Linked DNA regions of Homo sapiens. The protein of the gene in region 1 purifies or fractionates together with the protein of each later gene. This does not show direct contact. Each region holds a gene or a part of one and is shown on either strand. Other genes may lie near its edges.

Region 1 (4,516 bases):
CTGTCGTCCAGGCTGGAGTGTAGCGACACCATCACAGCTCATTGCAGCCTGGACCTCCCCAGCTCAAATAATCCTCCTATTTCAGCCTCCTGAGTACCTGGGACTACAGGCACGTTCCATCATGCCCAGCTAATTTTTAAAATTGTTTTTGTAGAGATGGGGCCTCACTCTGTTGCCCAGGCTGGCAGGCTGGTCTCAAACTCCAGGGCTCAAGGGATCCTCCCGCCTTAGCCTCCCAAAGTGCTGGGATGAGAGGTGTGAGCCACTGCACCCGGCCAATTTTTTTTTCTTCTTTTTTCTTTTTCTATTGAGACAGGGTCTTGCTCTGCTGCCCAGGCTGGAGTGCACTGGTGCGATCTCGACCCCCCAGGCTCAAGTGATCATCTCACCTCAGCCTCCCACGTAGCTGGGACTACAGGAGCTTGGCACTAGGCCCCGGATAATTTGTTTGTTTGTTTGTTTGTTTGTTTTGCGACGGAGTCTTGCTCTGTCGCCCAGGCTGGACTGCAATGGCAAGATCTCGGCTCACTGCAACCTCCGCCTCCTGGGTTCAAGCGATTCTCCTGCCTCAGCCTCCTGAGTAGCTGGGATTACAGGCATGCGCCACCGCGCCTGGCCAATTTTTTTAATTTTATGGATAGTGTATTTGAAAAGTCACATCGATTTTTCTCCTGGAATGTCCTCTAGATGTGCCGTAGCTTCAAGTTTTACATGTAGGTCTAATTTAGGTTGTGTGATACAATGGGTTTGCATTTAGAAGGGTCCTCTGGCAGCAGCAAGGAAGGTTTTCGGAGGGTGATAGCCTAGGGCCTGAAACTACTGAGACTTGGAGAGAAGTGATGGTGGCTTTCACTAGGTGATAGTAGTGAAGGATATCGAAATGAATTAAAATACTGGGGATGTAGAATGACTGGACTTAATGGCTTGAGGGAAGTGTCCAGAATGATTCCTGGGTTTCTTACGCACAACACTGAGGGTAGATAACTTGCTTGTACGTTTTTTGCACTTCAAATTGGTCCTCAATAAATAGTTTTTCCTTTGGGGAGGTTATGATTGAAATTTGGCCAGTCAGGGATACAGTTTTCTCAAACAACACTCTTGTATCAGTTCCCTTTTTGGGTACTGCCTGGAGCCCAGTATTGAACCCTGTCCTCCCAAGCCCAAAGACCTTTGCCTCCCATAGTACCAGGAAAGGTGCCCAAGTTCTTTTACACACAAGGTGCGCAGAGCGGCCAGCGCATGCCCAGAGAGGTCGTAAGGAGGACGACCGCCCGGAGAGAAAGGACGCACGCTTCCCGCCATTTTGTTCAGCTTGCCGGGCAACCGGCCCCTGCTGGGGACTACAAGTCCCGTAAGCCTCCGCGGCGGCACGTCCTACCCTACACTGTCCAGCCGGCTCCCTTTTTCCCCCTCCCCGGGGGCCAAGGGCTCCGGCTGCTGCCTGGCGGCCAACGGGCCAGGTAGGATTTCCGGGAGAGGCTGCTGTGGAGGCTGAGGAGGCGGCGGCGGAGATCTGGGTAAGTTCAGCGAGCAAGGGAAAGTGAGCAGGACGCGCTCAGTATCAGGCTGCGGCCTCCTCTCAGGCTGCGGCCCCTTTCTTGGCTCTGCGAGAGGGTCCCGGTCCGGGCAGAAGGTAACGGCCCGGGTCGCCGTCGCTTCGGGCCAGGGCGGGGCGGGGCCGCCGCCTCCCTCCTCGGCCCTCCCACAACGGTCCAACCCGGGCTTCTCCGCCTGAGGCAGGGCCCGCGCAGGCTCGCCCTCTCCGCCCCCCGAGACTTGGCTGGGCCCTTTTGTCTGGGCTGCGTTGCTCCCCCTTTGTGTCCGTGCATGGAGTCTCCGCCACGGGGGAGCCTGTTCCCCCGGTCCCCAACAGGGACTGCTCCCTGGGGATCCGGTTACAGTAACCGGATCGGGTCAAAGTACATTTTTCAAAACCGTCCTGCCTCAGACCTCTGCACCCCTGCTGGGCAGAACGGGGGCTTCGGAGCCAGGCGGAGTTTCTGTAAAAACCTGGAGGTTATTATTTAACTTTCAAACATCAGCCTGGGCGGCTTCAGGGCACGAAACTCCCGACGTTTTTCTTGGTGGAGAGATGAGATTAAGGAAAAGAAGCGACCCCTCTCTCCCACCCTCTACACCCCGGCTCCGGGAAACCGGGAAGGCATCGAATTTGCTGCGATGTCTGTGCAGCTCACATCTGTGATCGGTGGACCAAAGAACCAGTGGTGAATGGTAGAATGGCAGTTCACGCACCTCCCAAATCTCGGAGGAGAGTGACTTACAGGGCATCACTGATTGCTTGCAAAAAAAAAAAACCCTCCAGTGCTTCATTCGGACACTCAGCTCCTCGCTCCTTCCAACCTCTTCCTTTTCTTGTTCTTTTTAAAACAAACAGTGGAAGGAAAAAGTCCTTCAGTGGAAGAATTTGCTTTATAGAGGAACCAGAAACCCAGTGGCTTCTAGAAGTCACTTACTTTTTCGCCAAATTAAAGAAATGAATTTCGGGCGTGGTGGCGCGCGCCTGTAATGCCAACTATTCTGGAGGCTGAGGCAGGAGAATCGCTTGAGGCCAGAAGTTCGCGACCAGCCTGGGCAACACAGCAAGACCCCATCTTAAAAAAAAAAGGAATGAAGCCCGTTTAGAAATGAAGCCAGTTTAGGGGATGAGGTGTGGTAGATTCTTACCGGAAACCGCGGAACTGCGTGGATTGTGGATTCGATCAAATTTGGCTAGATAATGGTAACTGTGTATGTCCTCCTGTTGGAAGACTGCATTGCTAGAATCAGCTTAAGGTAAAATTTGTTTGTTTGTTTCATTTAAGAGACAAGAGTCTAGCTTGGTTGCTGAAGCTTGAGTACAGTGGAGAGCTCCTAGTTCACTGTAGCCTCGAACTTCTTGGCTTAAGCCATCCTTCCACCAGAGGCTCCCAGATGCCTGGGACTAGAGGCATGAGCCACTGTGCCCGACTATTTAATTTAATTTATTTATATTTATTTATTTATTTTGAGACAATCTCACTTTGTTACCCAGGCTGGAATGCAATGGCACGATCTTGGCTCACTGCAACCTCCACTTCCCAGGTTGAAGCGATTCTCCTGCCTCAGCCTCCTGAGTAGCTGGGATTACAGGTGTGTGCCACCATGCCCAGCTAGTTTTTGTATTTTTGGTAGAAACAAGGTTTCACCATGTTAGCCAGGCTGGCCTTGAACTCCTAACCTCAGGTGATCCACCCGCCTCGGTCTCCCAAAGTGCTGGGATTACAAGCGTGAGCCACCGTGCCTGGCCAATTTTTATGTATTTATTTTTTGAAATAGGGTCTCGCTGGGTTTCCCAGGCTGGAGTGCAGTGAGTTGAGCACTGCTCACTGCAGCCTGGACCTCCTCCTGGGCTCAAGCCTCTGCCTCCAGAGTAGCTGGGACAACAGACACAGGCCACCAGCGCAGCTAATTAAAAAAATTTTTAAAAAAATTTTTGTATTGATTGGGGTCCCACTCTGTTGCCCAGGCTGGTCTTGGACTCCTGGGCTCAAGTGATCCTCCCTCCCAAAGTGCTGGTATTAAACCTTAAGATAAAGAATACTGTATTTGTTTTTTGAGATAGAGTCTTGCTCTGTTGCTCAGGCTGTGCAGTGGCGTGATCTTGGCTCACTGCAACCTCTTCCTCCTGGTTTCAAGCGATTCTCCTGCCTCAGCCTCCCGAGTAGCTGGAATTACAGGCATGTGCCACCACTCCCGGCTAATTTTTTTTTTTTTTTTAGTAGAGATGGTGTTTCACCGTGTTGGCCAGGCTGGTCTGGAACTCCTGACCTAAAGTAATTTACCTGCCTCCGCCTCCCAAAGTGCTGGGATTACAGGTGTGAGCCACCGTGCCTGGCCAATAAAAAATTCTAAAGAAGGTCATTGCAAATAACCCTTTTGAAAAATAGGTTAATTCGTGTTTCAAGTCTCTGGGATGAGGACAGCCAGGAGGACCCCTTTACATGAATCAGGGAAGGTTACTGAAGTTAGATAGGTTAATTCCTGCCCTAGCCGAGTAGGCAAAATAAAGCCCTTCACCCTGTATTACTTTGTTTGATATCTCATAATGGAAGTGACTTACTCTTGAGAATCCTAGATTGTATTAGTAATACTGTATAGGGATGGTAGATCCTTAATGCAGTTCTTCAATTTTTAATCCAGCAGTGAGTGAGGGTCTTTTGTGTTTTCCTGGCTATAGTTTGAAGAAGCAACCACAGAATTGCTCTAGTTTTAATAATAAACTGGTTGGGCGCGGTGGCTCACACCTGTAATCCCAGCACTTTGGGAGGCTGAGGCAGGCAGATCACCTAAGGTCAGGTGTTCGAGATCAGCCTGGCCAACATGGTAAAATCCCATCTCTACTAAAAATATAAAAATTAGCCAGGTGTGGTGGTGGGCATCTGTAATCCCAGCTACTTGGGAGGCTGAGGCAGGAGAATCACTTGAACCTGGGAGGCGGAGGTTACAGCGAGCTGAGATTGCGCCACTGCACTCCAGC
Region 2 (3,812 bases), on another chromosome or scaffold:
CTGCAGTCCCTGATCATCTTCTAAGGTTTGTTTGTAAACATGTGGTCTGCAACCAAGAATTTAGGATGTCCAAATATGGCAAGTTTTTGCCCTCTCTGCTATCTAGTAACATGAGTAATAATCTTTGCTCTCCAACACTTTTTATTTGTCCCAACCATTGTCCTAATATTGTAACTGTAATGCAGCAAATTAGTTGCCTGAGTTAAAAGAAAAAAAAAAATCAACCCTTGGCCCTTAAGACGTCTTTTAATACAATGATGTGTTAGTCAACCAAATGATGACCTCAAATGGCTCTGGCCAAGGCCATGTGTGTTGTTTTCCAGCTTTAAAAACCTACTTGCGCGCCTCTTGCCAACCTTCCTCCAGTGTCAAAGTGTCATCTGCAAGGACTGTTGTCTGATTGTTCCTGAGGGTCGTAGGCTTTTGGTGGGATCTTAATTCCATTCTCTTTGATGTCTTTAGCTGTGAAAATTAAGAAGCCAATCAAGACGAAGTTCAGAATGCCAGTGTTTAACTGGGTTGCTCTGAAGCCCAATCAGATCAATGGCACAGTCTTCAATGAAATTGATGATGAGCGAATTCTGGAGGTATTTTTCTCATTGGTTAGAAACTAGAGGTGCACTCTGTGCAGCAAAGCCGGCATGGGTGTTCTGTTAACCTGGAAGTGTCAGAGATAAAGTACTAGTGTTTTAAGTCCCCTGATGTAAAGAAGAAACATGTATGTAATATTGGAGAATAACATTTGACACTGTTTTGTAAGGTGGCTCTAAAACTGTTCAAAGAGTTATGTTAAATTGGAATAAATGCTTTTGAGCATCTTTAGTGTATGCCACAGAATATAGATCTGACATAATAATTCCTTCCCTTAATTGAGAGAAAGACATAAAAACTTTTGGACTGCAAGTGAGCTCAATTATCACACTCACTGCCTTATCTGATGGATAATTTTAATCTGTGGCAGCTGTCTGTGCAAGCTAATTATTGAAAAGTAATTGAATTAGTGGGTTAGAATCGGTAGTCTAATGTTCACTTATTTTTTTATTTTATTTTATTTTTAAATTATTATTATTATTATTTTTTGAGACGGAGTCTCACTCTGTCGCCCAGGCTGGAATGCAGTGGCGCAACCTCGGCTCACTGCAACCTCTTCCTCCTAGGTTCAAGCAATTCTCTGGCTTAGCCTCCCAAGTAGCTGAGATTACAGGCACACACTACCATGTCTGGCTATTCTTTGTGTTTTTAGTAGAGAGCGCATTTCATCATGTTGGCCAGGCTGGTCTCAAACTCCTGACCTTAAGTGATCCACCCGCCTTGGCCTCCCAAAGTGCTGGGATTACAGGCATAAGCCACCACATCCGACCTATGTTCACTTTTGTGTATGTGCCAGAAGTTGTACTATAACAAAAACAAGAAAAATAGAGGAAGCCATGGCCAAAGACAAGTACTTAATAGAAAAAGTGACGTTTTTGCTTAAGAAACTAACTGGTGGCTTCCGGACTTCATTTTTAAATATAATCCAATTTTCCATGGTCATTCCTCTCTATCTTAGGATTTAAATGTGGATGAATTTGAGGAAATATTCAAGACAAAAGCCCAAGGACCTGCCATTGATCTTTCTTCAAGCAAACAGAAGATACCACAGAAGGGATCAAACAAAGTGACATTACTAGAAGCAAACAGGGCCAAAAATCTTGCCATAACTTTAAGGAAAGCTGGAAAGACTGCTGATGAAATATGTAAAGCTATTCATGTGTAAGTTCAGGAAAATTATATTCTAGTTAGTTTATGATAAAATGAAAATGAGAAAGTTATGAATTAGTAGATGACAAATATTTCAATAGTGAGACAAGACCTAAGATAAAAGCTGGAGCAATTTTTGATATCCACACTTGAGAGATCTGAACTCTGTGTGTGCTACTTCAAAGTTGAATATGATGCCAACACGAAAGAGGTAGACCAGAAATCACCCTGGGGAGTGTTGTATTAGAACCAGTAACTAATTGTTTTAGAAGAATAACATCTGGATTGTGACATCATTTATTATCTGGGTCTACTCTCTTATGCGGGCCTCCAGCAATGCTTACATAAAAGGAAAGTTGAGCTGAGCGTGGCAGATGTTAAGAAAAGGTAGAAAATGTCAGTTTTCTCTGGAGTATCTGGATTTTATCCAGATTTGTTGAATACAAATTTGATGGCATTTGTGGAATGATACAGTTCAATGCCAGATGCAAATATGATACAGATGCATATTTTAATTCGTAACAACAGGAATGTGAATTGTTTTGCTTTCAGTACTTTCAGGACATTTTAAACAAAGTTCATTTTTTACTCTTGAACTGCATAGAAGGCATTGGTTTTACTCCTCTATTAGAAGAATCCTTCTATTCTTCTTGTGGCCATGGTGACTTTCAAATGTGATGAAGACATTATTAAATGTTTTAGGAACTAATTATTTATAAATTGATTATCTTATACATTTTGGTTAGAGGCTTCGAGGTGTAAATGACCCTAAGAAATCCTTTGTTCCAATTTTGTGTCCTCAACCAGGGTCATAATCTGGTAGTCCAGTGCCTCCTACAGTCTGTTCTGATTTCTGTCATTGAATCCTGAAGTGCAGCCTGGCTTTAAATCTTTATATATCTTGTTTGTCATGATGATTAAATGTAATTCTATTATTTAGCTGAACAAAGATTGTCCAGAGAATAATAGAGAATAGAGACTGTAACAAATACTTCATTTGTTCAAATTAAGCATATATCCAAAAAGAACTTCAAGGAATGTATGCACTTAACCTAAAACATTCAATAATACAGGCATTTGGATGCATTTTTTTCCAAAGAAGAAAAAATACTACCAGACTATTGGTTTAATTGAAATATTTTACATAATTCACCAGATATTCTGTACTAATGTGTACAGTGTTAATCTCCTGAATTAGCTGTACTTCACAATGCCTGTCAACTATGTGCTTGAACCATGAAACCATCAGATGCTTTGGCCTTGGTTCTACCTCTTCCTATTTTCATTTACTCCTGATTCCAGAGGCTTAGAGCTATGCCAGTACCCTAAAAACTGAGGATGGCAGTTGTGACAAGGTCCACGTTTTCAGGAAGAACCAGTTAAGTTACCTGAGGCATAGTCAAGAACCAGCACCAGGGTGGGACTTCACAGGACAGCTGGAGAAATCTTAGACTCGTTGATTTGGTGTTTGATGAGCTGTACCAGATGGATGATGGATGGATGAACCTGAAAAGATGGATGAACTTGAAAAGGGGGTAGGAGGTTTTTCTCTCTAATGCTAATCTCTCCACATCTGTCTTTAGATTTGACTTGAAGACACTGCCTGTGGACTTTGTGGAATGCTTGATGCGGTTCCTACCAACTGAGAATGAAGTGAAAGTGCTTCGGCTCTACGAGCGGGAAAGGAAGCCTCTGGAAAACTTGTCAGATGAAGATCGGTTCATGATGCAGTTTAGTAAAATCGAGAGGCTCATGCAGAAGATGACCATCATGGCCTTCATTGGGAACTTTGCTGAAAGCATTCAGATGCTGACTCCTGTGAGTGGACTGACTCTGGCAGGGGAGGGGGTCCAAAGAAATGTGGAATCGTTATTTTTTAAAGTCTCTCCCAGAATCGTACTCAGTGTGATGGGTTCTAAAGACTCCTTCCCAGAACTTTCTAAATTGCATTTTTATTTCAACCATCTTTTCCACATTATGTATGCAAAGTAAATTTGAAAAATGGGGAATGTTCATATTCCATATTGCCATTCTTCCGAAAGAATGCCATTTTTTGTGTCTACAGATGTTCT

The links.
Region 2: the proteins of PHACTR4 (region 1) and FMNL2 purify together in Homo sapiens (affinity purification with western blotting, with the first as the bait; one study listed by BioGRID). This does not show direct contact.

Annotation. Positions count from the first base shown.
Region 1 is NC_000001.11:28,368,309-28,372,824, forward strand, and holds the start of PHACTR4 (phosphatase and actin regulator 4), read left to right. Parts: upstream 1-1,431; 5' UTR 1,432-1,517; intron 1,518-4,516. UniProt on the Homo sapiens protein: Regulator of protein phosphatase 1 (PP1) required for neural tube and optic fissure closure, and enteric neural crest cell (ENCCs) migration during development.
Region 2 is NC_000002.12:152,624,976-152,628,787, forward strand, and holds part of FMNL2 (formin-like protein 2), read left to right. Parts: intron 1-462; coding exon 463-587; intron 588-1,549; coding exon 1,550-1,752; intron 1,753-3,323; coding exon 3,324-3,558; intron 3,559-3,812. UniProt on the Homo sapiens protein: Plays a role in the regulation of cell morphology and cytoskeletal organization. Required in the cortical actin filament dynamics.